2 separate regions of the Homo sapiens genome follow, and region 2 is linked to region 1. A link means that fine-mapping ties the variant in region 1 to the expression of a gene that starts in the linked region. Tissue or cell type: whole blood. Region 1 holds a variant in brackets; the other region holds the start of a gene. All regions are shown on one strand. Distances are between the middles of the regions.

Region 1 (16,328 bases):
ATCCATCATAAAAGGCTATGAGTTTTTTTTAAGTGTTGAACACCATCCTACTTGTCAAGTTAAAACATAAGCTCCTGGCTGGGTACAGTGGCTCATGCCTGTAATCTCAGCATTTTGGGAGGCTGTGGCAGAAGCATCACTTGAAGCCAGAAGTTTGAGACCAGCCTGGGCAACATAGCAAGACCCCATCCCTCCACACACAAACACACACACACACACACACACACACACACACACACACACACACACACAAACAAGCTCTTGCCAGAATTAGAGCTACAAATTGCCCTCAGGTTCCTAGAAGATCAGTCCTTCAATTAGATTCAGATTGAGATGCTTCCTCTTTTAAACAATGATTCCCTTTCTATCATGCCCAATAAGAAAACAAATAAAAATTAAACAATACTGCCTGTAATCTCAGCTACCCAGGAGGCAGAAGCAGAACTGCTTCAACCCGGCAAGCAGAAGTTGCAGTGAAGTGAGATCGCGCCACTGCACTCCAGCCTGGAAAACAGAGCAAGATTCTGTCTCAAAAACAAAACAATGTGATTTCCTCCTCTAAGTCCTGCACAGGGAAATGTTAAGAAATAGGTCCACCAGGAAAGAAGGAAGTAAGAATGTTTGACTAGATTGTCTTGGAAAAAATAGTTATACTTTCTTGCTTGTCTTCCTAACAGTTCTCCAAAGCTTCGTACCTTGGCCAGAGGCTTGTCTCCTGCGTACCTGAGGTTTGGTGGCACCAAGACAGACTTCCTAATTTTCGATCCCAAGAAGGAATCAACCTTTGAAGAGAGAAGTTACTGGCAATCTCAAGTCAACCAGGGTGAAAATTTTTAAAGATTCACTCTATATTTTAATTAACGTCAGTCCGTCATGAGAATGCTTTGAGAAAACTGTTATTTCTCACACCTAACAATTAATGAGATTAACTTCCTCTCCCCTCATCTGACCTGTGGAGGAATCTGAACAAGAGGAGGAGGCAGTGGGCAGGTTTCCTTATCATGATGTTTGTCATGTTCAGTGTGAGGCCTCACAAAAAAAAAAAAAAAAAAAAGGCGTCCTGGATATAACTGAGAGCTCATTGTACAGTAAATATTAATAAAACAGTGATTGTAGCTGAAGGATAGAACTGCTTGGAGGGAGCAAGTGGGTAGAATCGCGTCAAACTAAAGAGCATTTCTAGCCAAAGACACAATGATAGATTGAAGGATATTTATTCTAAATATAGAATATGGGTGAACGAGATCTGTGGACTTCTGGGCTCCAACGTTAGATTCTGATTTTAGCAAGCTTGTCAGGGGATTCTGATATTGAAAGGCTGTGGCCTTCACCTGAGAAACCTGCCCTAGGGGGCCATGAAAATTTGTCCTGTCTTTCAGAAGTGCTATCAGACATCAAATGGAAGTTAAATCGTATCTTAACAATTACTAGGATGGGCGCAGTGACTCACACCTGTAATCCCAACACTTTGGGAGGCTGAGGCAGGAGGATCACTTGAGCCCAGGAGTTCGGGACCAGCCTGGGCAACATAGAGAGACGTTGTCTCTATTTTTTAATAATTTAAAGAGAAAAAAATACTGAAAATATTGTATACACCACTGAATTATAATAATGTGTATATAACGTATATATTCATTATGAGGAATATTTGATTATTTCATATATTATATCTTTTCCTTCTGTTTATTTTATCCAGTTATGAAGTATTTAGAACAATTCATCAGTAATTGGGGCTAAATTGACAGAATAGTAATCAGAGAAAATAGAAAAAGACAGATGGGTTATCTTTGAATACCAGGTTGGAGTTGTTTATGGGTTTGTTTTTTGTTTTGGGGGCGTTTTTTTAGACAGAGTCCCACTCTGTTGCCCAGGCTGGAGTGCAGTGGCACAAGCATGGCCCACTGCAGCCTTGACCTCTTGGGCTCAAGCAATCTTCCCACCTTAGCCTCCTGAGTAGCTGGGACCACAGGTGCATGTCACCACACCCAGCTAATTTTTTTATTTTTTGTAGAGACAGTCTTTCTATGTTATCCAGGCTGATCTCAAACTCCTGCACTCAAGTGATCCCCCTGCCTTGGCGTCCCAAAGTATTGGGATTATAGGCATAGCCACCACACCCAACCTAGTTTCTATTTAGACTTGGCCCTTTCCCACCAGTCATTTGTGTCCAAAAGATCTCATAAATGTAGACAGGAAACTGTCCTTTGCTCATCAGTTTTCTTCATCCTGTGTCTAGGGGGATGGTCGGTGGGGGAAACTGGGGTTATGCAAGTTCCTCTGAAACATCCTCTGTGAGCCCAGGGATGGATGAGGCACCAGCCGCCAGCGAGTCAGTGTGCAGCTTTCCAGAAAGGAAGTCATCAGCCAGTCAGCCGGCCCTGGCAGCCAGCACCCGGCAACCCTGCTGTCTTGTGATAAAGAAATGGTCTGCCTGACAGGATGGTGTGGATTTTTCTTTTTTCTTTTTTTTTTTTTTGAGACAGGGTCTGGCTCTGTCGCCCAGGCTGGAGTGCAATGGCGGGATCTTGGCTCACTGCAGCCTCTGCCTCCCAGGCTCAAGGCATCCTCCCACCTCGGTCTCCCGAGTAGCTGGGACCACAGGCACACACCACCACGCCCAGCTAAGTTTTCGTATTTTTAGTAGAGGCAGGGTTTTACTATGTTGTCCAGGCTAGTCTCAAACTCCTGAGCTCAAGCTATCCATCTGCCTTGGCCTCCCAAAGAGCTGGAATTACAAGCGTGAGCCACTGTGCCTGACCAGGGTGGATTTTTTCAAGTGCACATGTTGTGGTCCCAGAAGCTCTGATGGTACCAAATTCAAAGCGAAAAAAAGTCAACGGTTCCCACCCATCCTACCTCCCATGATGGCAAGAGGAAAACACCACACTGCAGATACAGTCCATGTAAAACAAATTGCTATGGATTTTGAAAGTGAACCTTAAGAGAACTGCACTATGTTTTCTTCATTAGAGTTCTCTGGTAATTTCCAGCTTTTTTTTTTTTTTTTTTTTTTAGACAGTGTCTCGCTTTGTCGCCCAGTGTCACCCAGGCTGGAGTGCAGTGACGTGATCTCGGCTCACTGCAACCTCCGCCTCGTGGGTTGAAGTGATTCTCCTGCCTCAGCCTCCTGAGTAGCTGTATTTTAGTAGAGACGAGGTTTCACCATTTGGCCAGGCTGGTCTCGAACTCCTGACCTCAAGTGATTCGCCCATCTCAGCCTCCCAAAGTGCTGGGATTACAGGTGTGAGCCACTGCACCCGGCCAGTAATTTCAAGCTTCTGAGGAGCCCTTTGAATTGTTAAATAACTTGTAGCTATGTCCAACATATCCATGTTCAGTGTATGTTCAATATTTCTTAGGAAACCTGCCCTTGGTTGTTTTCTTTGTGGTAATTCATGAGCCGGCAAATTTGACATGTGTTACAGAATATACCTTTTCTCTGCTCTCCTACCTCATAACCAGAACTTAATTATCCTGCTTTAGTCACATAAATAGCTAACTAAATAAATATATGCGATTTCAGTCTGCTCACTGTGAAAACAGACCTTCTAAATGATCTCTTCCACTTGCAGATATTTGCAAATATGGATCCATCCCTCCTGATGTGGAGGAGAAGTTACGGTTGGAATGGCCCTACCAGGAGCAATTGCTACTCCGAGAACACTACCAGAAAAAGTTCAAGAACAGCACCTACTCAAGTAAGAAATGAAAGGCACCCTAGAGATGTTCCAGCCCCAAAGATATTTGAATAGGTTGGACTCGGGCACCAATCTAGCAAGTCCTACGGAAGTTGTATAAAGCTGAAAATACTGAAGCATTTCCCAAATGGGAAATCCTAAACTCAAAACTTGCTTTTTGGTTTTTTTTTTGTTTGTTTTTTCTTCATCTGACATTGCTTAGTAGTCACAGAATGAAAGATAAATCAATCATTCATGATCTAACAATGACCTTCAGTGCTCTAAAAAACTACGGAGTCAAGGAAAACATGAATATATTCCTCATGTAAAATTAAAATACAGACATATAAAGGGCAAAACATGAACATCATTCATACCTTGAGGTCCGTCCCCCTCCCAGAAATAACCCCCAGTATGCCTTGGTTTAGAGCATTAGGCAGGAGGGCCCTGAGTCACTCCAGACAGTCTTGGCCACCAAGCAGCATTCTCTTTTTGTTTCCTCTGTGGCTTTTGCAAACACAGGGCTAGCTCAGCTACCCATTAGTATGTTTTCAGTCACTAAAACAGTCTTCCAGTCTTCAAATTAGGATGACATTGTCACATGGGGCTTTAAAGCAAGTGAAACAAGGAACCCCCTTTTTTTTTTTTTTTTTTGAGATGGAATCTCACTCTTGTCGCCCAGCCTGGAGTGCAATGGCGCAATCTTGGCTCACTGCAACCTCCGCCTCCCAGGTTCAAGAGATTCTCCTGCCTTAGCCTCCTATTCATTATGAGGAATATTTGATTATTCAGTTCCTGTAGGGTAAAGGTATTACCCCCGATCATATTATTGATTATTGAGTAGCTGAGATTACAGGTGCCTACCATCACGACCGGCTAATTTTTTGTATTTTTTAGTAGAGACAGGGTTTCACCATGTTGGCCAGGCTCCAGGCTCGTCTCGAACTCCTGACCTCAGGTGATCCACCCACCTCAGCCTCCCAAAGTTCTGGGATTACAGGCGTGAGCCACCACTCCTGGCCACAATCCTTTTTTAACTATGAAATATATTTTTATCTGAAGTTTGATGTTTATACCCCACTGAGGGATGATGTTCCCATATCTCAGTTAAAGAAATAACCTGCTCAGATACTTCAAGCTCTTCTTTTGACTTTTGAAAATAAATGATCTTGAAGTTACTATACTTTGTTTGGGTTAGTTAACATTATTTAAAGTATATTATTTTAATTAATTATCTTTGTAAGATTTTACTGTATACTACCTGGAGTTCAATGTATCAGATGGATTTCAAATTTATGTACATTTTTTATGTATATGGTACAGAAAAAAATGTGTTCCATAAGAAATCAAAAAATAGCGCATATGCTAATAGCTAATGTTGTCCTCTAAAAAACTTTTTTTTGCATTTTTAAGAGGGCGATCTACTCTGACACTTTAATAAGTGTAATTAATTATTGACTGGAATTTGGCATGAGGCAGGGCCATTTCAGATCCCATTAAAGGAATGACACATACCAGAGAACCACAGAAGTAAGGCCACATTTGTAATAAATCATTATAGCTCTGCTAGGAGAAGACCCAGTTGTATTAGGTAATTAATGGATTTGCTCTTAAAACACATGTCCCGGAAGATATAGGTGAGTCTTGGGGGGTCGCATTAAACATTATACCAATGTATCTTACATTTCTAAGAAAGTTTTACTACTTTACAGGATCTTTCTGTTACCAAAATGGTAGGTTTCCAACTCCAGGACTTGGCTTTCATAGTTCCTACACCAGGGGAAATGCCTTCCTTTGCTAACTATGCAACCAGGTTAGTTAGTGTAAGTCCAGCCACCCTGTTGGCAATGCTAAAAGGTACAACAAACACAGAATTTTATTTGCATTTGTAAACATTTGATTTCTGGCTCGAAATTTTCAGTTTTCATGGGCACGTCATGGAAACAGAAATCTTCTGTGTTTAGTTTGGGCACCTACTCATTGTAGTGACAAATATTTCAGAAGCTAATAGGGGATTCCACAAATTGTTCTGAACCTGTGGCTGAGACTGGTAATGGCTGAGTGACATGGGGACATACCACAAAAGAAGAGGTAGCAAAAGGCTGCTGAGATAAGGACATGTTCATTGCTTAGCTAGTGGCCTGCACCCTTAAAACACATGTCCCAGGCTGGGTGCTGTGGCTCACACCTGTAATCCCAGCACTTTGGGAGGCTGAGGCGGGTGGATTACCTGAGGTCAGGAGTTCGAGACCAACCTGGCCAACATAGTGAAACCTCATTTCTACTAAAAATACAAAAATTAGCCAGGCATGGTGGCGGGCGCCTGTAGTCCCAGCTACTCAGGAGGCAGGCAGGAGAATTACTTGAATCTGGGAGGCAGAGGTTGTGGTGAGCCGAGATTGCGCCACCGCACGCTAGCCTGGGCGACAAAGTGAGACTCTGTCTCAAAAAAACAAAAACAAAAAACAAACAAACAAAAAACAACAACAACAAAAAAACGGGTGTCCCAGAAGATACAGGTAAGTTTTCTAACACAGGTCCTCTTGTATGGTGCGTTCCACTTAAGTAGAAGATGACAAAAACATTTGTCATGAGAATATAGACTCACATTTTAAACCTGTTTGAGCAGGAAAA[G/A]GAAGCAGTGTTACAGATGTAATTCCGGGTGTGACTGCAGAAAGGATGACTCCCTTATTAAAGTAGTCATCCTGAGTGAGCTAACTCTTTGTACTTCCTCTTCTCCTCCTGTTCCCCTCATCACCCCATTCTTCCGTTGCCTACACCCAGGCCCACATTGGATGCTGACATAGACTTACATGGTACAGTCCAAGGGAAAGATCTGCCATTTTTTTCAATGTGTCATCTTGGTTATCTTCATTCCAAGGATCTCTCCACTCTTTATACAGTAAGAGATGAGAGTCTGGAAAGGATTGGGAATAAGATAATGAATTGTAAGTTTTAAATTGTTCTTCGTATTTTGAGTAAGGAGTAGGCTAGGTGGTCCTTCTGTTTTTTTTGTTTTTTTTTTTTAAAGTAGATGTGGCCAGACGTGGTGGCTCACGCCTGTAATCCCAGCACTTTGAGAGGCTGAGGCAGGTGGATCACTTGATGTCAGGAGTTCAAGACTAGCCTGGCCAACACAGTGAAACCCCATCTTTACTAAAAATACAAAAACTAGCCGGGCTTGGTGGCGTCCACCTGTAGTCCCAGCTACTGCAGAGGTGGAGGCAGGAGAATCACTTGAACCCGGGAGGTGGAGGTTGCAGTGAGCCAAGATCATGCCATTGTACTCCAGCCTGGGCGACAGAACAATACTCTGTCTCAAAAAAAAAGAGAAAAGAAAAGAAAAAAAGAATGGATTTGAACTCAGTCGTCAATAGCCTCTATTCCAGGAGATGTTACAGTTGATTATGTTATAGGGGGTGTATAATAGAATTTCGAGCTATGTAAATTCCAAGTGCATTTGGAAGAATGAAGAAATGGAGGAAGGGTAAAGTATGAGTGCAAGCATTCCAGGTTTTTTGAAAATGCTATAATCTTTGTTCAGGGCTAGTACAAAGTGCTATTTAGCTGTAAGGGTTTTTTGTGATTTACAGACAGTTTTCACATGTGTCATTTCAACCTTGGTTTTATGGCGAAGGCATGTGATGGTGCTTGTCCCAGGACTTTAGATCCATATCTGAGGTTCCTGTCGGGCAAAGATATTACCCCTGTTCATATTATAGTCTATAAGTGGGAGAGTTGTGCCTGGAGCTCAAGTCTTATGATTTCTGATCCAGGGCACTTCCTACAACATGATTTTGCAATATAAAAGCCTATAATGTGTGACTAAAGCAGGTCACTCACCCCTTGTAACAGACTCTAGTAATGGTACTGCCACCAAACGGCTGCGTGATATTGGGCAAAGACTTACCTTATTTGAATCTCAGTTTCCTCCTAGAAAAATGAGGGTGGAGGTTAAGCATAGGCTGATGATCCTAAAGCCTCCATACTGCCTTAAACTGTGGCTCTAAGATCCAGTAGAATGCTGGGTCACAGGACTCTAGAGAGCTTTTCAAACCCAAATGTCTGTCATTCCTTGATGGTAGGCAGCAGTTTATGGAAGTGGGTGACACAGCAAATATCAAAATACCTAAAGCAGCTTGCAAGAGTTGTTTCTGCCTAGTGGTCTTTATAGTTAATATTAAATAGTTAATTTTTTTTTTTTTTTTTTTTGAGACAGAGTCTTGCTCTGTTACCCAGGCTGCAGTGCAGTGGCACAATCTCGGCTCACTGCAACCTCCACCTCCCGGGTTTGAGCAATTCTGTCTCAGCCTCCCAAGTAGCTGGGACTACAGGTGCATGCCACTGCACCCAGCTAATTTTTGTATTTTTAGTAGAGACGGGGTTTCACCATATTGGGCAGGCTGGTCTCGAACTCTTGACCTCAGGTGATCCACCTGCCTCAGCCTCCCAAAGTGCTGGGATTACAGGCATGAGCCACTGCACTCAGCTTAAATAGCTAATATTTAATATTATTCTATAGTTATTCAAGTAATTCAGGCCAAAGACTTAGAAACAAAACAAAAAGCCACTTTTAAGGAGAAAGGGTGTAAGTTTGCCAGATAGATAGAGATCTTTCTTTTTTAACTACAAGAGTTCAGGAATGAATTACTCTTTAACAAACGACTATAGATATACATGAAAATTGGAAGGACTTATTATGCATATGATAATCAATTTAAAGACAACACTTAAAATTATATTGTTGCCACTCTCAAAAAGTGGTAATAGAACAGCTAATGGTTTAAAAAGCAGAGTACAGAAGTTCCCAAACTTATGGCACCTTAATATCGCAGAAAACTTTTTAAAGCATGCCTAGGCCACAAAAAATACCTGTATTTTGATTATTAAATTGTAAGGTCTACACAACCTAATAGTAATAGGTCCAATAGTAATGCTGTCCAATAGATGTTGATGTTTTTTTCCTTGCAAACTTAAAAGATCCTACAGTGCCTCTGTAAATAGCACTGCCTGGTTAGAGTTGAATTTCAGATAAATAATTTTTTTCATGTTAATTATTTTTCTTTTCTTTACTTTTTTTTTTGTTTGTTTTTTTGTTTTTTTTTTTGAGACAGGATCTCATTCTGTTGCCCAGGCTGCTGTGCAATGGCATGATCATGGCTCACTGCAGCCTTGACCTCCCTGGGCTCAGGTGATCCTCCCACCTCAGCCTCCCAAGTAGCTAGCTGGGACTACAGGTGCTTACCATCATGCCCGGCTAATTTTTGTGTTTTTTGTAGAGATGTGGTTTTGCCATGTTGCCCAGGCTGGTCTTGAACTCCTGGGCTCAAGTGATCCGCCCGCCTCGGCCTCCCAAAGTGCTAGGATGACAGGCATGAGCCACTGCACCTGGCCCCTGTGCGAAGTATTTCTTAATGGTTACATAGGACATACACTAAACATTATTTATTGTCTATATGAAGTTCAAGTTTAACTAGGTGCCCTGCACTTTTAGTTGCTAAATCCTGTAGCTGTACCCATGCATTCACTGGTGCTCCCCAGCTTGCCTTGCACAGAGTTTGGAAACCATAGTCCTATAACTCTAGGCCAATTTTTTAATGTAAAATTTGATTCATTTTAAATTAATAAATCATAACAGGAATTTTTTTAAAAATTGTTTTAAATATAATTAAAATTATCAAAATATTTTTTAACTGAACTTGTGACTAGAGATATTTAGATTATGAAGAGTGGGGTTTATGCTAACTAATGACAGTCTGGCTATGCATGTGGAGCACTGAGCTATAAATTGTGGCTTCCCCAATTCTCCTGATGTCACTTGAACAAAACCTAAGTGTCAGACCAGAGCTTCTGGTATCTTCCATGGGATTTCATTCAACAGCTGGAGCAAATGAAGTCAGATTGATTTTTTTTAATTTGTCCAATTTTGTTGTCTCAAAAACATAATTATAATCATTTATTAGAACTAGAATTTCTTCAGTTTAACAACAGAAATAGTTATTCATTATGAAAAGCGAATCTGGAGGCCTTCATTGTGGTGCCAATCTAACCATTAAATTGTGACGTTTTTCTTTTAGGAAGCTCTGTAGATGTGCTATACACTTTTGCAAACTGCTCAGGACTGGACTTGATCTTTGGCCTAAATGCGTTATTAAGAACAGCAGATTTGCAGTGGAACAGTTCTAATGCTCAGTTGCTCCTGGACTACTGCTCTTCCAAGGGGTATAACATTTCTTGGGAACTAGGCAATGGTGAGTACCCCAGGGAACAATTCATTAATAAGGAGATCCCCCACTAGCATTATTTCTTTTCTTTTCTTTTTCTTTTTTTTTTTTTTTTTTTTGAGACAGAGTCTCGCACTGCTGCCCAGGCTGGAGTGCAGTGGCGCCACCTCGGCTCACTTGAAGCTCTGCCTCCCAAATTCACGCCATTCTCCTGCCTCAGCCTCCCGAGTAGCTGGGACTACAGGCACCCGCCACCGCGCCCAGCTAATTTTTTTTTTTTTTTTTTTTTTTTTTTTTTTGCATTTTTAGTAGAGACGGGGTTTCACCGTGTTAGCCAGGATGGTCTTGATCTCCTGACCTCGTGATCTGCCCTCCTCGGCCTCCCAAAGTGCTGGGATTACAGGCGTGAGCCACCAGGCCCGGCTAGCATTATTTCTTATGACACTTTTTTTTTTTTTTTTTTGAGACGGAGTCTCGCTCTGTCGCCCAGGCTGGAGTGCAGTGGCGCCATCTCGGCTCACTGCAAGCTCCACCTCCCAGGTTCACGCCATTCTCCTGCCTCAGCCTCCCGAGTAGCTGGGACTACACGCACCCGCCACCACGCCCGGCTAATTTTTTTGTATTTTTAGTAGAGACGGGGTTTCACCGTGTTAGCCAGGATGGTCTCTATCTCCTGACCCCATGATCTGCCCGCCTCGGCGTCCCAAAGTGGTGGGATTACAGGCGTGAGCCACTGCGCCCGGCCAACACTCTTTTTATTATTAGCAAATATACTTCTGCCTGGGCACATTCTTGCAAGTGCTCAACAATGCAACTTTTGGAAGTGCATGTGGCAGAAACTCCTACTGTATTTATTCCAGAACCTATTATTGCTAATCCCAGTTTATGTTACATTTGAAGTGAGAACCAGTTGGAGCCAGCAACGTTCCCAGCTCCAAAGTTCCCTTGAGATTTTCAGAATCACTTAACCCTATTATGCTTGGCAAGCTGGACTCAGCAAAACTGGGAAGTCAGCAGTTTGTTTTATTCATCCCTTCCTTTCTCATTTTCTCAAATGTGTCAGTTAATCTCAGTAACCCCATTGCAACCTTCATTACCTGCCCAAACGGTCTAGAACTTGCCAGTATAGAATCCTACGTGGGTCAAGCTCCTGACTGTCTCCTTCTTCACTCTTTTTTTGCAAAGAACTTGTAAATTTTAACTATAAGTATTCATGATTCGCCACATTTATTCAAAACATAGAGTGCTTTTTCCACATATCAGCCAATGGAAATAAGGATTAAATGGGAAATGAAATGTAGTAATAGGATAAGCACAAGTCTTCTTCCTGCTCAAACTTTTTTTTTTTTTTTTTTTTTTCAGACAAGATCTTGCTCTGTTACCCAGGCTGGAGTGCAGTGGCGTGTTCATAGCTCAATGTAACCTCCAACTCCTGGGCTCATGCAATCTCTCACACCTCAGCCCCCTGATTAGCTAGGACTACACTATGCCTAGCCAATTTTTTTTCTTTTGTCTGGTTGTGTTGCCCAGGCTTGTCTCGATCTCCTGGCCTCAAGTAATCCTCCTGCCTCGGCCTTCTAAAGTGCTGGGATTATAGGCATGAGCCACTGTGCCCGGTCTCAAACCTTTTTTTCCAAAGTAAATGAAGTTATTAGATATGGAATATAGTCTAGTTCCCAGATATCCATATCCATTGGTTTATTACCCTCATTATTAACTTCAAATTGTTTAATAGACCCTCATATCTCAGTTATACAGTTAAAATTTTTGTTTTGTTTTTCTGGAGTATCTTATTTATAACTTTGAGTTTTACTTTACTTATTTATTTTATTTTTTGAGACAGACGCTTGCTCTGTCACTCAGGCTGGAGTGCGGTTGCGTGATCATGGCTCACTATGGCCTCGACCTTCTGGGCTCAAGTGATCCTCTCCCTCAGCCTCCCAAGCTGAGACTACAGGCATGCACCACCACATCTAGCTAATTTTTTTTTTTCCCCATGGAACAGGGCTTTACTATGTTACCCAGAGTGGTCTCAAACTCCTGGCCTCAGGGGATCCTCCTGTCTCAGCCTACCAAAATGCTGGGATTACAGGCATGAGCCATAGCGCCAGACCTGGTTTTACTTTTCTTGACTTTGAATTACAAGTTTTTGTAATTTGGAAAATGTTTTGTTGCTTTTAAATACTGCTATATGTTTGCTTTTAAATACAACATTTCTCGATATATATTTTGAGAATTGCTGTCTTTCAGAACCTAACAGTTTCCTTAAGAAGGCTGATATTTTCATCAATGGGTCGCAGTTAGGAGAAGATTTTATTCAATTGCATAAACTTCTAAGAAAGTCCACCTTCAAAAATGCAAAACTCTATGGTCCTGATGTTGGTCAGCCTCGAAGAAAGACGGCTAAGATGCTGAAGAGGTAGGAACTAGAGGATGCAGAATCACTTTACTTTTCTTCTTTTTCCTTTTGAGACAGAGTCTCACTCTGTCAGCCAGACTGGAGTGCAGTGGTACAATCATGGCTCACTGCAACTTCGACCTCCCAGGCTCAAGCAATCCTCCCATCTCAGTCCCACAAATAGCTGGGACTACAGGTGCACATCACCACACCTGGCTACTTTAAAAAAATTTTTTTGTAGAGATGGGGTCTCCCTGTGTTGCCCAGGCTGGTCTCTTGAATTCCTGTGCTCAAGCCATCCTTCCACCTCAGCCTCCCAGAGTGCCAGGATTACAGGCATGAGCCACCACACCCAGCCACCACTTTTCTTAAAAAAAAAAAAGATTCTCTCTGGTAGACAATCCTCAATAGTCCACATGTTATTAAACAATCTGCTGCCTGAATACATGATTTACCAAAAAAAGGAAATTTTGACGGGTTCAGAATATCAAGGGATCTGAGGCAAATGTCACCTATGATAAAATTTGCTATCAAAATTAGGAAGTTTGTGTTTACCTGATCCTAAAGCAGTAACCAGCCCATTTCTAGGGAATAAAACTCTCATGCGTATATTGTGCATATATATGTATTATATGACTGAGTGATAATAAAATTTTTTTTCTAGCTTCCTGAAGGCTGGTGGAGAAGTGATTGATTCAGTTACATGGCATCAGTAAGTATGTCTCCTATTCTTAATACTAGGAAAGTAAGGCTAGCTTTATTTATTACCTAGTATTCAAAAAGTTAGTTCATTTAACTGCCAATTGACTGCAGTTCAAATAAGAAACAAATAGTGTCTCAAGTAGCACTGTACTCCAATTTTAATATTAATAAAAAAAATTTAAAGTTATTTTAAATAATGTAGTGGTTTCTATAAAGATCACTTTATACAGAAGAACAGTGCCAATTAACCCATGGAACATATAAGTAGCTAAAACCAATTGCTTGCCAAAGAACCAGTAACCCAGGAGTACATGTACTTGCCACTGTGTTTTTTCAAGACAGAGTAACTGATTTCTAGTTACTTGCATAGAATGGACTCCTCCTCATAACTCCCTTCCATCTTGGTCTTTCCCTAGTAGAACTTCTACCTTTTTTTAGTAACAGGTGAGTGGGAGAGGTAAGAAGGAGAATAAGGTCAGCAATTAACCTAAAAGCAGAAAGTAAAATTTGTTATTTTTTTTCTGAATATTTTCTGTGTAATTTAGCTACTATTTGAATGGACGGACTGCTACCAAGGAAGATTTTCTAAACCCTGATGTATTGGACATTTTTATTTCATCTGTGCAAAAAGTTTTCCAGGTAATAGTCTTTTTAAACTTTTTAATGTAAAACCAGAATCCTTATTTTATAGTCTAGCTAGTTCTAAATTCTATAGGTATGTATATTTACATGTTTTTCTAATTTTAGAGAACAAGCACTATGACTTATCCACTGTTAGTTTTCCCCTTAGCATTGGGTCTTACCCCATGTACGTGATTAGAAATTTGAAATATTTCCAATAGCCTTTAGTAGAATTAACTCACATAGATGATAAGAATGGGTTGGTTCACTTCATGTTCCTTCCACAGCCTACTATTTCAATAAAAGAAAGTTTCCCAAGACCTAAATGACTATGAACATATTTTATAACTATATAGGAGGGGTGGGTCTAGGAATACAAAGTTTTGAATGCTGTTAATCTTCAACACCACAGTTGAAACCACAGGTCAGCTTTTTTGCAATTACCATGGATACTTTTCTGTTCTATAGGTGGTTGAGAGCACCAGGCCTGGCAAGAAGGTCTGGTTAGGAGAAACAAGCTCTGCATATGGAGGCGGAGCGCCCTTGCTATCCGACACCTTTGCAGCTGGCTTTATGTGAGTGAAGCAGCGCTGGCCTTAGGGGTCAGAGTGCAGCTCTTCTCCATCCTTCTATTCTGCTGAAATAGCTCCCCAGCCAAAAAGCAGATCAAAGACCATTTCAGTGGCTGAGCCCCAAAATTCATGCCAGATTTTGCAAGAAAATGATTTACTAAAGCTTGAGGGACATCTTTAACAAGTGTTCCAAATTAATCACTATAAGGATGAATTGTTTCAGAAATTTTGGCCTTTAATTATGGCCCATAAATATGTCAAGTAGTCCTTACTCTAAAGAAGTACACTGTAAAAGAATGCATATAGCCGGATATGGTAGTTCCCTGTAATCCCAATACTTTGGGAGGCCAAGGTGGGAGGATTGCTTGAGCCCAGGAGTTTGAGGCTGCAGTGAGTTATGATGGTGCCACTGCACTCTAGACTGGGCAACAGAGTGAGACTGTCTTTTTTTTTCCCCTCTGTCACCCAGACTGGAGGGCAGTGGCACGATCTCACCTCACTGCAACCTCTGCCTCCCGGATTGAAGCGATTCTCCTGCCTCAGCGTCCTGAGTAGCTGGGACTACAGGAGTATCACCGCACTGGGCTAATTTTTGTATTTTTAGTAGAGACGGGGTTTTGACATGTTGCCCAGGCTGGTCTGAAACCCGTGAGCTCAAGTGATCTGCCTACCTCAGCCTTCCAAAATGCTGGGATTACGGACATGAGCCACCACGCCCGGCCACACCCTGTCTCTTAAAAAAAAAAAAAAATGCAAGTTAGAGCATATTACAGCTTTGTCTCTCAGGAGGATACTTAGTGTATGTAGCTATAATTCATAGATTCCCAAGAAGTTTAGAGCCTAAAGTATGAGGTCCCACCAGAGGGGCTATCATTAAATTTAAAGATTTGTTAAATCATCTCATTGTCCAACACCACAAACTTGATTGCTTTAAAATACTGGTTTAGTTACATTTAGTAACTCTATTAGTGCTTTTAATCTATACTGCTATATCCTCACATTGAGATTTTTTTTCTTTTCTCTTCCATCTTCATTCTTTTTTCTCTCATCCTCATTCTTATAAGCCTAGAATACATCACAAATCCTTTATGCCCATGGAAGCAAGAGGAATAAAGAATGGAGATGTTTGTTTTGCCATTAACTAAAGATCTGGGGTGTCGGGGAGAAGGGGGATAGAGAAGGAGAAGTGGGAAGAGGTGTCCATAATAGCTTAGGTGCAATTCTGCTTATTTTACATTTTACCCCCGCTGACTGCCACTTTTTCTTCAGCCCTCACACATTGTTTGTGCAGGGACCTCATAGGACCAGGAATTGTCTATAGAGGTGGGAATTTGTCTCACCCTGAAAGGGATACCTCTAGCATGGTAATAGTCTTCTAGGATTTGTTATCATATGGAAAGATGTAAAGGGAGGGATTCTGCTGCTGCTGCTGCTGCTGCATGCAGTTGCCATTTCATTTAAATGACTTATTTATAATTGATGACACTTTTCTGGCTTCCTGTTAATTCCTCCCTCAAAGATCAATAAACCAGAACCAGGCATGGTGGCATGCACTTGTGGTCCTGTAACCACCCAACAGGTTCACCTTGCCTGCTGTCTAGATAGAGCCAATTATCAAGACAGGGGAATTGCAAAGGAGAAAGAGTAATTTATGCAGAGCCAGCTGTGCAGGAGACCAGAGTTTTATTATTACTCAAATCAGTCTCCCCGAACATTCGAGGATCAGAGCTTTTAAGGATAATTTGGCCGGTAGGGGCTTAGGAAGTGGAGAGTGCTGGTTGGTCAGGTTGGAGATGGAATCACAGGGAGTGGAAGTGAGGTTTTCTTGCTGTCTTCTGTTCCTGGATGGGATGGCAGAACTGGTTGGGCCAGATTACCGGTCTGGGTGGTCTCAAATGATCCACCCAGTTCAGGGTCTGCAAGATATCTCAAGCACTGATCTTAGGTTTTACAACAGTGATGTTATCCCCAGGAACAATTTGGGGAGGTTCAGACTCTTGGAGCCAGAGGCTGCATTATCCCTAAACCGTAATCTCTAATGTTGTAGCTAATTTGTTAGTCCTGCAAAGGTAGACTTGTCCCCAGGCAAGAAGGGGGTCTTTTCAGAAAAGGGCTATTATCATTTTTGTTTCAG
Region 2 (15,165 bases), 26 kb after region 1:
TTTAAAGAGTGCTAACTTTGTTGACAATATAAAACATATTTGAGAAAAAGAGATATAAGCATCTTATTTAGAATTATGAAAATATCAATAGACCTACAGCCGACTAAAGCTTTTCTTCATAAGCTCTTGCCTATATTGATTCGCTCCTGTGAATATGCATTAATTTGATTTAAATAATAAGTATGTATAAGAAATAACACTTTTCCTTAATTTTTAAGAACGTTCAACAGTTTTTAATTTGAATTCCAATAGTGAAATACATAGAAAATATAAAATTTTCTGTAGTTTAGCCAAATTGTTTTTGTTTCACCACAGCATTCTACCAAAATTTCTTAATAACAGTAAGAAAATGAATGCATACCTCCTGCAGGGAGAGGGGAGTTAGGCAGTTTATGGGCATAGTTACAAGTGAGAAATTTCATTGGCTACCATTTATGCTAAATTCATAAAAACTGCATTCAATTCTATATATCTATTTTCTTTACATAAAAAAGGTTTCAATTATTGGCCATTAAATAAAATAGCCACCATTCCAGAAGTTGTGTCATGTTTATCCTTTTTATACCACCATCATATTGCCTAGTATATAGATTGTGTGTGTTCCATTTTCTGTAATGGGCCAGACAGTAAGTATTTCTGGCTTTGGAGTCCATATGGTCTCTATCATAACTACTCATCCCTGCCATTGTAGCTTAAAGATTATCTAGGTCAAATGCCTAAGTGATATAGTGTTGAAATACAAGTTATATAATATAGGCTGCCACAAAAAAAAATTTATTTGGTCTAAAAAAGATTTCATGACTTTTGTAGCAGCATGGGTGGGGCATGCACCACTTGGTTAACTCGGTGTATCTTTCTCCTTTGCAGATCTGTCCAACTCAATGGTCTAACTCTAAAGATGGTGGATGATCAAACCTTGCCACCTTTAATGGAAAAACCTCTCCGGCCAGGAAGTTCACTGGGCTTGCCAGCTTTCTCATATAGTTTTTTTGTGATAAGAAATGCCAAAGTTGCTGCTTGCATCTGAAAATAAAATATACTAGTCCTGACACTGAATTTTTCAAGTATACTAAGAGTAAAGCAACTCAAGTTATAGGAAAGGAAGCAGATACCTTGCAAAGCAACTAGTGGGTGCTTGAGAGACACTGGGACACTGTCAGTGCTAGATTTAGCACAGTATTTTGATCTCGCTAGGTAGAACACTGCTAATAATAATAGCTAATAATACCTTGTTCCAAATACTGCTTAGCATTTTGCATGTTTTACTTTTATCTAAAGTTTTGTTTTGTTTTATTATTTATTTATTTATTTATTTTGAGACAGAATCTCTCTCTGTCACCCAGGCTGGAGTGCCATGGTGCGATCTTGGCTCACTGCAACTTTAAGCAATTCTCCTGCCTCAGCTTCCTGAGTAGCTGGGATTATAGGCGTGTGCCACCACGCCCAGCTACTTTCTATATTTTTTGTAGAGATGGAGTTTCGCCATATTGGCCAAGCTGGTCTCGAACTCCTGTCCTCGAACTCCTGTCCTCAAGTGATCCACCCGCCTCAGCCTCTCAAAGTGCTGGGATTACAGGTGTGAGCCACCACACCCAGCAGTGTTTTATTTTTGAGACAGGGTATCATTCTGTTGCCCAGGCTTGAGTGCAGTGGTGCAATCATAGATCACTGCAGCCTTTTAACTCCTGGGCTCAAGTCATCCTCCTGCTTAGCCTCCCAAGTAGCTAGGACCACAGACACATGCCATCACACTTGGCTATTTTTAAAAAATTTTTTGTAGAGATGGGGTCTCGCTATGTTACCCAAACTGGTCCTGAACTCCTGGACTCAATTGATCCTCCCACCTTGGCCTTCCAGGTGCTGGGATTTCTTTGGGAGTACAGCATGGTACAGCAGGAGATCATTTGATGTTACCTCTGTGCAGTGTTGCTAGTCAGCGAAAGACTATAATACCTGTGGGGACAGCGATTAGCCACCACAACCAGTCTTTATTTAAAGTTATTAAAAATGGCTGGGCGCAGTGGCTCACACCTGTAATCCTAGCACTTTGGGAGGCCGAGGCAGATGGATCACCTGACGTGAGGAATTTGATACCAGCCTGGCCAACATGGTGAAACCCCATCTCTACTAAAAAATACAAAAATTAGCTGGGTGTGGTCCTGTAGTCCCAGCTACTTGGGAGGCTGGGGCAGGAGAATTACTTGAACCCAGGAGGCAGAGGTTGCAGTGAGCCGAGATTGTGCCACTGCACTCCAGCCTGGGTGACAGAGAGAGATTCCATCTCAAAAAAACAAGTTATTAAAAATGTATATGAATGCTCCTAATATGGTCAGGAAGCAAGGAAGCGAAGGATATATTATGAGTTTTAAGAAGGTGCTTAGCTGTATATTTATCTTTCAAAATGTATTAGAAGATTTTAGAATTCTTTCCTTCATGTGCCATCTCTACAGGCACCCATCAGAAAAAGCATACTGCCGTTACCGTGAAACTGGTTGTAAAAGAGAAACTATCTATTTGCACCTTAAAAGACAGCTAGATTTTGCTGATTTTCTTCTTTCGGTTTTCTTTGTCAGCAATAATATGTGAGAGGACAGATTGTTAGATATGATAGTATAAAAAATGGTTAATGACAATTCAGAGGCGAGGAGATTCTGTAAACTTAAAATTACTATAAATGAAATTGATTTGTCAAGAGGATAAATTTTAGAAAACACCCAATACCTTATAACTGTCTGTTAATGCTTGCTTTTTCTCTACCTTTCTTCCTTGTTTCAGTTGGGAAGCTTTTGGCTGCAAGTAACAGAAACTCCTAATTCAAATGGCTTAAGCAATAAGGAAATGTATATTCCCACATAACTAGACGTTCAAACAGGCCAGGCTCCAGCACTTCAGTACGTCACCAGGGATCTGGGTTCTTCCCAGCTCTCTGCTCTGCCATCTTTAGCGCTGGCTTCATTCTCAGACTCTGGTAGCATGATGGCTGTAGCTGTTTCATGGGCCCCTTCAAACCTCATAGCAACCAGAGGAAGAAAATGAGCCATTTTTTGAGTCTCCTTCATAGACTTGAATAACTCTTTTTCAGAGCTTCTCACAGCAAACCTCTCCTCATGTCTCCTCATGTCTTATTGTTCAGAAATGGGTAATGTGGCCATTTCACCAGTCACTGCCAACAACAACGAGGTTCCTATAATTGTCTCTGAGTAACCCTTTGGAATGGAGAGGGTGTTGGTCAGTCTACAAACTGAACACTGCAGTTCTGCGCTTTTTACCAGTGAAAAAATGTAATTATTTTCCCCTCTTAAGGATTAATATTCTTCAAATGTATGCCTGTTATGGATATAGTATCTTTAAAATTTTTTATTTTAATAGCTTTAGGGGTACACACTTTTTGCTTACAGGGGTGAATTGTGTAGTGGTGAAGACTCGGCTTTTAATGTACTTGTCACCTGAGTGATGTACATTGTACCCAATAGGTAATTTTTCATCCATTACCCTCCTTCCGCCCTCTTCCCTTCTGAGTCTCCAACATCCCTTATACCACTGTGTATGTTCTTGTGTACCTACAGCTAAGCTTCCACTTATAAGTGAGAACATGCAGTATTTGGTTTTCCATTCCTGAGTTACTTCCCTTAGGATAACAGCCCCCAGTTCCGTCCAAGTTGCTGCAAAATACATTATTCTTCTTTATGGCTGAGTAATAGTCCATGGTACATATATACCACATTTTCTTTATCCACTTATCAGTTGATGGACACTTAGGTTAATTCCATTCAATTTCATTCAATTTAAGTATATTTGTAAGGAGCTAAAGCTGAAAATTAAATTTTAGATCTTTCAATACTCTTAAATTTTATATGTAAGTGGTTTTTATATTTTCACATTTGAAATAAAGTAATTTTTATAATCTTGATATTGTATGACTATTCTTTTAGTAATGTAAAGCCTACAGACTCCTACATTTGGAAGCCTTGTTTTCCTTCACTGCTTTGTTTATACCTGGAAACAGGATATAGAACCACTAGTGTGTTGTTTCACCCCTTGTTATACTATCAGGATCAGAAGTGGGGGTTTTCCAATGCACAGTCTGAGACAAGGACTTGGGTCAGGTGGGTTATTTGGGAATAAGGAATGAAAGAACAGGGAGTGTGAGAGGGAAGTGAAGAAAAAACCAATATTAATTTTTGCTGTTGAGTTTGCTGCTGTGGGCAATGAGCGTTCAGTTCCACCAGCACTACCAAGAATTGTAGGGGATGCCTCCCAAAATTTGTCTCTTATTATTCTCTTATTTCTCATCAGCTATCATTTTATAGTCACATTATTGTCAATTACAATTTCTACAAAGAACACCAGTTTCACATAAAATTATTTTAAGGCCGGAAGCAATTATAGTTAATGATTGTATTTGTTAAGCTTGAAAGTCACTTTAACGTCTCATTTGGGAGTCAAACGATAAATATTTTCTTTTCTATTCTCTCTTTTTTTGAGAAAGGGTCTCACTCTGTCACCCAGTCTGGAGTGCAGTGGTATGGCATGCTCATGGCTCACTGCAGCCTAGGCCTCCTGGGCTCAACCCACCTCAGCCTCCCTAGTAGCTGGGACTACAAGTGCATGCCACCATGCATTTTTGTATTTTTTGTAAAGACAGTGTTTTGATATGTTGCTCAGGCTGGTCTTGAACTCCATGGCTCAAGTGATCTGCCTGCCTCAGCCTCCCATAGTATTGGGATTACAGGCATAAGCCACCACACCTGACCAATAAATATTGTTTAAACCTAAAACACCTTCTCTAGGGCCAACCACAAAAATCAGATGAAACATAGTAGAGACGAAAAATATGAATGTAGAAGTGCTTCAAACATGTAAATCTGCTAAAATGAAGGGTACATGTAAAGTGGAATGAATGTTCTGGTTGACGCACCATTTAAACAAATATTTGTGGGATGAATGAATTTATTCTCCATCCACTAGGTGCAACATTTCTGCATTAGCGTTCTCTAGAGAAGAGAAACAGTACCAATAGGATATATATAAAGATATAAAGAGTTTTTTTTTTTTTTTTTTTGGAGACAGAGTCTTGCTCTGTCACCCAGGCTGGAGTGCAGTGGCGTAATCTCGGCTCACTGCAAGCTCTGCCTCCCGGGTTCACACCATTCTCCTGCCTCAGCCTCCCCAGTAGCTGGGACTACAGGCGTCCGCCACCAAGCCCGGCTAATTTTTTTGTATTTTTAGTAGAGATGGGGTTTCACCATGTTAGCCAGGATGGTCTCAATCTCCTGACCTGGTGATCCGCCCACCTCAGCCTCCCAAAGTGCTGGGATTACAGGTGTGAGTCACTGCGCCCAGCTGATTTATTTTAAGGAATTAGTTCAAGCAATTATGGAGGCTGCTGAATCCAAAATCTGCAGGGTAGGCTAGCTGGCAGGCTGGAGACCCAGGAAAGGACCGATGTTGCAGTTGAAGTCCAAGTCCAAAGGCCATTTGCTGGGAGAATTCCTTCTTGCCTGAGGTAGGTCAGTCTTTTGTTCTATTCAGGCCTTCAGCAGATTGGATGAAGCCCACCCACATTATGGAGGGCAATCTGCTTTACTCAAAATCCGCCAATTTAAATGTTAATTTCATCCTAAAACACCCTGTATTAGTCTGCCCTCATGCAGCTAATAAAGACATACTTCAGACTGGGTAATTTATAAAGGAAAGAGCTTTAATTAACTTACAATTCCACATGGCTTGAGAGGCCTCACAATCATGGCAGAAGTTGAAGGAGGAGCAAAGGCACATCTTACATGGTGGCAGGCAAGAGAGCTTGTGCTGGGGAACTCCCCTTTATAAAACCATCAGTTCTCATGAGACGTATTCACTATCATGAGAACAACACAGGAAAGACCCACCCCCATTATTCAATTACCTCCCACTGGGTCCCTCCCACAACACATGGGAATTATGGGAGCTACAGTTCAAGATGAGATTTGGGTGGGGACACAGAAAAACAGTATCATTCCGCCCTTGGCCCCTCCCAAATCTCATGTCCTCACATTTCAAAATCAATCATACCTTCCCACAGTCCTCCAAAGTGTTAACTCATTTCAGCATTAACTCAAAAGTCCACAGTCCAAAGTCTCATCTGAGACAAGGTAAGTCCCTTCCCCCTATGAGCCTATAAAATCAAAAGCAAATTAGTTACTTCCTAGATACAATGGAGGTACAGGCATTGGATAAACACACCTGTTCCAAATGAAAGAAATTGGCCAAAACGAAGGGGCTACAGGTCCCATACAAATCTGAAATCCAGCAGGGCAGCCAAATCTTAAAGCTCCAAAATGATCTCCTTTGACTCCATGTCTTACATCCAGGTCACACTGATGCAAAAGGTGGGTTCCCATGGTCTTGGGCAGCCCCAGCCTGTGGCTTTGCAGGGTGCAGCCCCTCTCCTGACTGCTTTCATGAGCTGGCATTAACTGACTAAAGCTTTTCCAGGTGTGCAATGCAAGCTGTCAGTGTATCTACCATTCTGGGGTCTGAAGGATGGTGGCTCTCTTCTCACAGCTCCACTATGCAGTGCCCCAGTGGGGACTCTGTGTGGGGGTCCACACCACACATTTCCCTTCTGCATTGCCCTAGCAGAAGTTCTCTTATGAGGGCTCTGCCCCTGTAGCAGACCTTTGCCTGGACATCCAGGCATTTCCATACAACCTCTGAAATCTAGGCAGAGGTCCCCAAACATCACTTCTTGACTTCTGTGCGCCCTCAGGCACAACAACACATGTAAGCCACCAAGGTTTGGGGCTCGCACCCTCTGATGCAATGGGTTGAGCTGTACGTTGGCCTCTTTTTGCCACAGCTGGGATGCAGGACACCAAGTCCCAAGACTGCACAAAGCAGCAAGGCCCTGGGCCTGGCCCACAAAACCATTTTTCCTTCCTAGGCCTCCTGGCTTGTGATGGGAGGGGCTGCCATGAAGACCTCTGACATGCCCTGAGACATTTTCCCCATTGTCTTGGTGATTCACATTTGGCTCCTCATTACTTATGCAAATTTCTGCAGCCCCCTTGAATTTCTCCTCAGAAAATGGGTTTTTCCTTTCTATCGTATCATCAGGCTGCAAATTTTCTGAACTTTTATGTTGTGCTTCCCTTTTGAACACAAGTTCCAATTCCAAACCATATCTTTGTGAATACATAAAACTAAATGCTTTTAACAGTACCCAAGTTACCTCTGGAATGCTTTGTTGCTTACAAATTTCTTCTGCCAGATTCCCTAAATCATCTCTTTCAAGTTCAAAGTTTCACAAATCTCTAGGGCAGAGGCAAAATGCCACCAGTCTTTTTGCTAAAATATAGCAAGAGTCACCTTTGCTCTAGTTCCCAAGTTCCTCATCTCCATCTGAGACTACCTCAGCCTGGACTTTACTGTCCATATCACTGTCAGCATTTTGGTCAAAGCCATTCAACAAATCTCTAGGAAGTTCCAAACTTTCCCACATCTTCCTGCCTTCTGAGCCCTCCAAACTGTCTGTTATCCAGTTCCAAAGTTGCTTTCACATTTTCGGGTATCTTTACATCAGCACCCCACTATACCAGTACCAATTTACTGTATTAGTCTGTTCTGATGCTGCTAATAAAGACATACCTGAGACTGAGTAACTTATAAAGGAAAGAGATTTAAGTGACTTACAGTTCCACATGGCTGGGGAGGCATCACAATCATGAAGTTGAAGGAGGAGCAAAGGCACATCTTAACGTGGCAGCAGGCAAGAGAACTTGTGTAGGGGAACTCCCCTTTATAAAACCATCAGATCTTGTGAGACTTGTTCACTATCTTAAGAACAGCATGGGAAAGACCTGTCCCCATGATTCAATTACCTCCCACTGGGTCCCTCCCATGACAGATGGGAATTTATGGAGGCTACAATTCAAAATGAGATTTGGATGGGGACACAGCCAAACCATATCACACCTTCATAGAAACAACCAGAATAATGGTTTACTTGTCTAGTTTTTTTGAGACAGGGTCTTGCTCTGTCACCTAGGCCAGAATGCAGTGGTGTGCACTGCAACCTTGACCGCTCGGGCTCAAGTGATCCTCCTACCTCAGCCTCCTGAGCAGCTGGGACTAAAGGAGTGCACCACCAAGCCCAGCTAATTTTTTTAAAGATTTTTGTAGCGATGAGGTCTCACTTTGTTGCACAGACTGGTCTTGAACTCCTGGGCTCAAGCAATCCTGCCTCAGCTTCCCAAAATGTTGAGATGACAAGTGTAAGCTACCAACCTGAGCTTCATAAGCCTCTTAACTAATATCCCTACTTATCTCACTGCTTGCCTACAGTTTACTCTCAACCCAGTATTGAGAGTAATTATTTAAAATATAAGTCAGTATGAGACAAGAACTATGAGAGGAAAATAAAATAAAATAGAAGTCAGGTCATGTCTCTGTTCTGTTCACAATCCTCCAATGGCTCCCTCTTATTTCACTTAGAGAAAAGCCAAAGTCCTTACCACGGTATGTAAGACCCCACACAACCTGGTCCCTAGTCCTCTCTGCTCTCATCCCTGATCTCTCTCCCTTTTGCTCACTCTACTCTATCCACACTGGCCTCCTTGCTCTTATTAAGAAAACACTTCAAGCTTGCTCCCATCTTAGGGCCCTTGCACTAGACATCCCTCTAAGAGTATCTAGTGATATTCTTCCCTCAGATCTCTCATAGCTACTCCCTTATCTCCTTCAAGTCTTTGAGAAAGTGAGATCAGGGCTGTCCTACCACCCCAATTACCATATTTAAGTATACATACAGCCTGTCCCTACTTTTCCCTGTTACTCTTCTTTTCTCCATACCACTTACCACCTTCGAACATACTGCAAAATCTATTTGATTACCTTTTTCAGTCCTTGTGATGTGGGGAGGGGTTGTCTTGTTTCCAAAGCCTTGTCAGTCATTGTAATTCATTCTTCTGGCCACCATAAAAAAGATGAGAGGTTTATTATTTGTTTTTTTGAGACAGGGTCTCACTCTGTCACCCAGGCTGGAGTGCAGTGGCATGACCATGGCTCACAAAGCCTCAACCTCGGGGGCTCAAGCAATCCTCCCACTTCAGCCTCCCAAGTAGCTGAGACCACAGGCATATGCCATTATTCTCAGCTAATTTTTGAATTTTTAGTAGAGATGAGGTCTCACTATGTTGCCTAGACTGGTCCTGAGTTCCTGGGCTCAAGCAATTCTCTCACCTGGGTCTCTCAAGTGTTGGGATCACAGGTGTGAGCCACAGTGCCTGGCCAGAATAATTTTTGACCAAATGTTTTGGCACTATGGCCTAGCCAAATTGACATGTAAAATTAACCATTTCAGTTCCTGTGGGTAATAGGTTTAAAACAAAATGAGTTCCTGCCCAATCCAAAATGAGGAATTGGCGTTGTGTACATGTACCCTAAAACTTAAAGTATAATAATAATAAAATTTTAAAAAAAAAGAAAGTCACTTCAAAAAAAACAAAAAACAAAATGAGGAATCGGAGCCTTACAGGCCCTTTTAGAGAAAGCCTAGTCCCTTCCTTTTCTGAAGAGTTTGCAGCAGTTAAATGGCTTTCCCAAGGGCATACTGTGCCTTGGCATTAGTCTAGAGGAGACTCCTGAAAGTTAGGGCTCTACTCTATGTGACTGTTCTCTTGTCCTACAAATTAGCAGAGTGACATGTGGGTACCCATCTCAGTTTCCTGTGCACTTTAATTGGACCAAATATCTTAGGATTGAATCACCTCTGGGCAGGGTCAGCATCATGGGTACATGTGCAGTCACCCAGGGCCTACGCTAAGAAGGACCTTGTACTTGGTTTAATGTCCTGCTGTTGCCATCTTGAAATTCTTAATATATTTTTTTAAACAAAGAGTTTGGACCTATATTGGAAAGTCATGGATGCAATACATGACTGATATTACACCCTTTTCAGGTTTGAGTCAGATCTAAATCATCTCCAATCTAACAACTAGGAGTGTTACTAAATTGCCTGCTGGCCTTTATTCTTTGCAGGCAGGAGAAAGGCTAGGTACCCCCTGCCTCATTGCACCAAAGTGGCCAGGCATCCAACTTGCTGTACTTGAGCCATGCAAGAAGTCACAGAATCATTGTACATGTTTTACAGAAAGGAGCCTAAAGACTAAGTCAACTTCCTAGAATATTAAAATCCAGATGAGTGACTTGCCTAGGGTTACTCAGTGAGAGGTTAAATGAGTTGATACATGTAAAGTGCCTGGCACACAGCGATATACAGAGTTGCTTATGAATAAGAGTACTGACCATCTGAGGCAGGAGGATCTCTTTAGCCCAGCTGTTCAAGACCAACCTGGGCAATATAGTGAGACCTCCTCTCTATGAAAAATTAAAAATTAGCCAGCCACGGTGGCTCGTGTCTGTGGTCCCAGATATTTAGAATGCTGAGATGGGAGGATCGATTGAGCCCAAGAGGTGGAGGCTGCAGTGAGCCATGATCCCTCCACTGGTCTCCAGCCTGGATGACAGAGCAAGACTCTGCTGACCAGACTTTTCAGCTTCAGGTTCTTAGCATCACACATGCTGGTTGTCTACTGATTACAAAAACTCCTTTGAAGGGCTGTCAAATTTAAAATTTTCACTTGTGTAATGAACATCCCTTAACCCTGAATGCGATTTTAATTTACAGTCTTGTATGTGGCCACTTGGTGCCCTTTTTTTTTTTTATGGCTAAACGTGTACGCAAATTCTTCTTTTGGATTCAGTAGGTTTTTCAAAGCTTTTTTTTTTTTTTCCTGGTACAACTGTTCCATATGAATAAACACTATCCTTTTCATTTTATGGAGAAAGCTGATAATAGGGTTAAATTATAGGGGGCCATTGTTTTGAACTAAGTTCCTGCACTAGGTCCCAACAGATCAGACTAAGAATCAAGAGTCACCCATGCTAAAGTTCCAAGTCACCAAACTAAAACTAAGTTGTATCTGACATTCTGAGAAGTCAGGAAAGAGAGACAACAGCCAATTTTCCAACCAGGCCATTTCAAAATGCAATCGTCATGACAATTAAGTTTCCTGTTTTAGTCCTTAACCTGGTGTAACCTAATGTTAACCAATCCGTTATTTCTCTGTTGTTGTTTCCCTGTCCCCGCCTCGCAATGAAAGTAATTTGAAGTGACCAATCCGCTTTTTGTTCTCTGCTTCTGCTTTCTTCAGCCCTTTTTCTGTCTATAAAGCCAACTTCCTCCGCTCGACTCTTTGGAACACTTATTCTATTTTACAGAATAAGGTGTTGCCCGATTCTATTTTTTGTTTGTTTCCTCAGAGACCCCGTTCTGAGTGTTGCCCGATAATGGAACCACAAAGTCAATCAAGATCGAGTTGTAAAAAATTACAACTAAATTTATTGTAATTTTTTTGCCTTTTGCCAATAGAAATCCCTTTTTCATTAAGTATTCCTCCCTAGAGTAAGCGACCACGATGACCCCAATTTCACAAGTAAGGATGAGGAAAGGTTCTGCCCACACCGCCGCCCAGCCTGGCAGACTAGGATTGCATCCTGCGGGTGCCACTGCGCATGCCTGCCGGGGAATGACGTCAATCCGAGCTCGTCCCGGCCTCACCAGCGCCATGCTGGGCTCGCGAGCCGCGGGGTTCGCGCGGGGCCTGCGGGCTGTGGCACTGGCGTGGCTGCCGGGCTGGCGGGGCCGCTCCTTCGCCCTGGCGCGTGCGGCAGGCGCGCCCCACGGTGGTGACTTGCAGCCCCCCGCCTGTCCCGAGCCGCGCGGGCGCCAGCTCAGTTTGTCCGCGGCGGCGGTGGTGGACTCTGCGCCCCGCCCCCTGCAGCCGTACTTGCGCCTCATGCGGTTGGACAAGCCCATTGGTGAGTGCGGGCGGGCGGGCAGCCCGGGAATTTGCAAGTAGCAGCCTCCGAGTCGGCTCCGCGGAGCTGTCCGCGGCGGCCGGCCGGGGCGTGATGGAAATGAGAACCTGAAAGCTTGGGCTTGGCTGCCGGGTGCCGTGCGCCCTGGGGCGAATCACCTCGGGACACTTTGAAATGAGAGCCTGAAAGCTTGAGCTTGGCTGCCGGCTGCCGTGCGCCCTGGGGCGAGTCACCTCAGGACACGCAGTCGGGACAGTCTCCTAAAGGACCCGCCAGTTTCACGTCTGTCTGCATCCTGAGCACCTGAAGCGGGCAAGATAATTCTCATTCCACAAACACTTGTTTAAATGGTGACTCAAGCGGAAGGTTCCGTTCTCGTGGCCCTCCTTCATTTATTAGAATGTTTGATCCTCCCCGCAATCTTGTAAGGCCCACAAAGACAATCCTTAAGACAGTTAAGACGCTGAGGAAACTAAGGCTCCTCGTCAGAGCCAGACCAGAAGAACTCTGTGTTTTGATGCTGAGTCGGAGCTCTTTTACCTGCATCACCCATAAGGCAAAGATTTAATTCATTTGAACGCAGCAGGGACAGCGCTTACGGACTGCCTGTCAGCTTACAATCGCCCCCGACAGAAAGATTTTCCTGACCTTCCTATCTTAATTAACACCTACCAACCTCACTTTCTATCGCTTTATCCGCAATTTTTCTTAATAGCACTCACCACTAACTAACCTTATGCGCTTGTTGATTGATTGGCTTCTCCAGTAGTGTTAAGTGAATTAATAAGTTCCTACTACGTTGTCCGGCCATAGAGATAGAAAAAGCTATGGAAACCCTTTGCTTTCAAGGAACTCTGGTCTAGTTGAAAAAGACTATTTGGTGAGCTAGGAAAATATGGATCAAATATGAGTGATACAAAAGCAAGTGCTACAGGAAAAAGAGAAATTACTGTGGATCCCTTGCTGGAAAGTTTCGAGAAGAAATTATACTCCAAAGGACAAGTTGATTTTGCAGAGGAGGGAAGAGATCTTAGTGCGGGAAGTACTTTTGCAAAGACCCAAGGGTGGAGTGTTAGAACACTAAGAATACGAGCCTGACCTGGAACACCAAGTGGGTGTGGAAAATGGGAAACGAGACTAGACAAGAACATATCTGAAGAAGCTGGATAGCGTGGAGGAAGAAGTGAAGGATGAACTCCAGCCAATCTAGATGATGACATTTGCCATTGCAGTGTATGGAGATGTAGTCAAAGGCCTAGGTACATTTACTCCACTTTTGCCCGTACAAGACCCGAATTAGGCCTTGCTTTTGGTATTCTAGATTTATGCACGACCTATTTGGGATTAGAGCACTAAGTTATAACAATCAGCTATCAAAGCATAAAAGCCTACTGAATGATAGGTACAGCCCTGCCATCATTGGGAAGCTGTGTATGACCCCCATGAGTTTTGGGGCCACATTCACGTTGAGAGGCATGCATTTCCAAGCCCAGTTCCAATCTGAAGCCTGGCTGTAATTCTGTTCTTGGAGTCTGTGGCATGGAGTGGCAGTGTAGCCTTATAGATGAACATCTGCCATTATTCCCATTTCCCCAGTTAAACCTCTGGCTTCTATCTTAGTGGCTGGACCTTCCGCCATGTAACAGAAGGCAACAAAGGGGTTATGAGCAAAACTTTGGAGCCAAACCTCTTGGATGTGAACCTCCACCCTGCTCATCTGAGGGACCTTGGATAAATTACTTCACCTCTCTGGGCATCCGTTTTTCATCTGTAAAATGAAGATACTATTAATGATAATATGGACGTTATGAGGTCACGAAAATTCATTAATATATGTTAAGTGCTTAGAACAGTGCCTGTCATAATATGTGCTGAAGAAATAGCCATTATTATCTTAGAAGTGGGGAATGGAGAAAATTGTACTTACAGATTGTGTATGTTTGGAAGATACCAGCCTGCATGGTTTGGTTCTAAATAAGGTGATCATTACAGGATTTTTCAGAAAACTAAATAGTACTATGTTAGAATTCGCTCAACAAATGTATTTTGAACCCCTACCATATGCCAGAAACAATAATTGACAGGAGTAGAATTCCAGGTTTGATAATTCTTTATTTAAATTCTTATTTTGTGGGATAATTATGTGTTCGTTGTTTTACTTTGTTGAAGTTATATCTTGTTACCTTCATTGATCAATAGTAGGTTTTCGTTGTTTTTGAGAAGGCAATACAGCTTCTTTCAAATGGGCTAAACTACCTTATTCCAGAAAGTGTCAGCAGGTGGCACTCTTTCCACCAAATTGGAAGTGTAATTTTTTGTTTTACCACGTTTATGGGTGATTATGTTGTCTTGAAGATCATCTGTTTTTGATCTGTCCATCACCCCTCAGAACTTGCTCATTTTATTTCATCTCCCATAGAGTTTTTCCCTTTTCTACAAAAACATTTCTTTTTGCAATCTACTTGTCTCTTGTCTTTGCTACCTCTGCGTCTTTCTTCACAGAAAAGTATGGGGAATGAAAGTGTCATATGGAAGACAAAAAAAAAAAAACATTGCTAGGAATCAGTAGGGACAAAAGAACAGGTGAAACTGAAGTGTATGGAGAGATTTAGGGAGTACAGAGTGACAGCATTGGACTTAGGACACAGACTGCAGCCAGACTGTCTGGGTTGGAATACCACCTTAGCCTTTTTTTACCTGTGTGGTCTTGGGCACAATTACTCCCTCTCTGCGTCAGTTTCTGTATTTGTAAAATGGTTGTAATAAAAATAGTGCCTATCGAATAGGCTTGTTGTGAGAGTCAAAAGTGTTCTGTGAAACCACCTGGTACAGTAAGTGCCATGTATCTGTTATTACGGTTGTCATAACATCATTAATATTGTCATCTCTTAACGACTCTGTGAGGTAGCTGTTCTCTTCCCTCATTTACAGATGAAACAAAGACTTAAGCCTTAAGATACTTTACTGTCTAGTGTCACTCAACTTACAAGTGGCAGACATAGAACTGAGAAGTCTTCTTACTTTCCCCTTCACTGTAGGAACCCTTGTCATCTGTAGGGGAGCTCTACAGATTCCTATCAGTAAGTGAATACGGTACTTTTAATACAGATTTTTGGCCAAGGAAGTTTTGTTCCTGACAGAAAACACTATAAGTGGTTACACGTCTTTCTGTCTAGAATTTTTTTCTTTTTAGTGGAACCTTCTGTTCTAATTGTACCAGGAAATAATAGCTGTGAAGTGGTATTCTCTCTTCTCTAGCCTAGGAGGATAGGATCAGCTACTCCTCTGTCCCTTGTGAACTATACT

Evidence for each region. PIP is the estimated chance that this variant, and not a neighbour inherited with it, causes the effect.
Region 2: COQ2 starts here. The variant in region 1 is fine-mapped to the expression of COQ2 in whole blood (TOPMed, PIP above 0.99). The same link has a PIP of 0.9 or more in neutrophils.

What each region holds. Positions count from the first base shown.
Region 1 is chr4:83,306,714-83,323,041 of GRCh38, reverse strand. It overlaps HPSE (heparanase), which reads left to right. Exons shown (of 12, transcript NM_001098540.3): 2 at 678-823; 3 at 3,573-3,698; 4 at 9,755-9,928; 5 at 12,152-12,320; 6 at 12,964-13,011; 7 at 13,547-13,640; 8 at 14,091-14,197. LOC105377313 (a long non-coding RNA gene) reads right to left here and starts at 8,948. Exons shown (of 3, transcript XR_938944.2): 1 at 8,923-8,948; 2 at 6,491-6,594; 3 at 6,203-6,294. RefSeq lists a silencer at 1,450-1,643 and an enhancer at 5,766-6,965. The variant G/A (reference allele first, on the strand shown) is at 6,312.
Region 2 is chr4:83,281,206-83,296,370 of GRCh38, reverse strand. COQ2 (coenzyme Q2, polyprenyltransferase) reads left to right here and starts at 11,573. Exons shown (of 7, transcript NM_001358921.2): 1 at 11,573-11,859. The coding sequence starts at 11,607. HPSE (heparanase) reads left to right here. Exons shown (of 12, transcript NM_001098540.3): 12 at 868-3,910. The coding sequence ends at 1,027. RefSeq lists enhancers at 6,856-7,356, 11,441-11,735, 11,931-12,170 and a silencer at 11,541-11,870.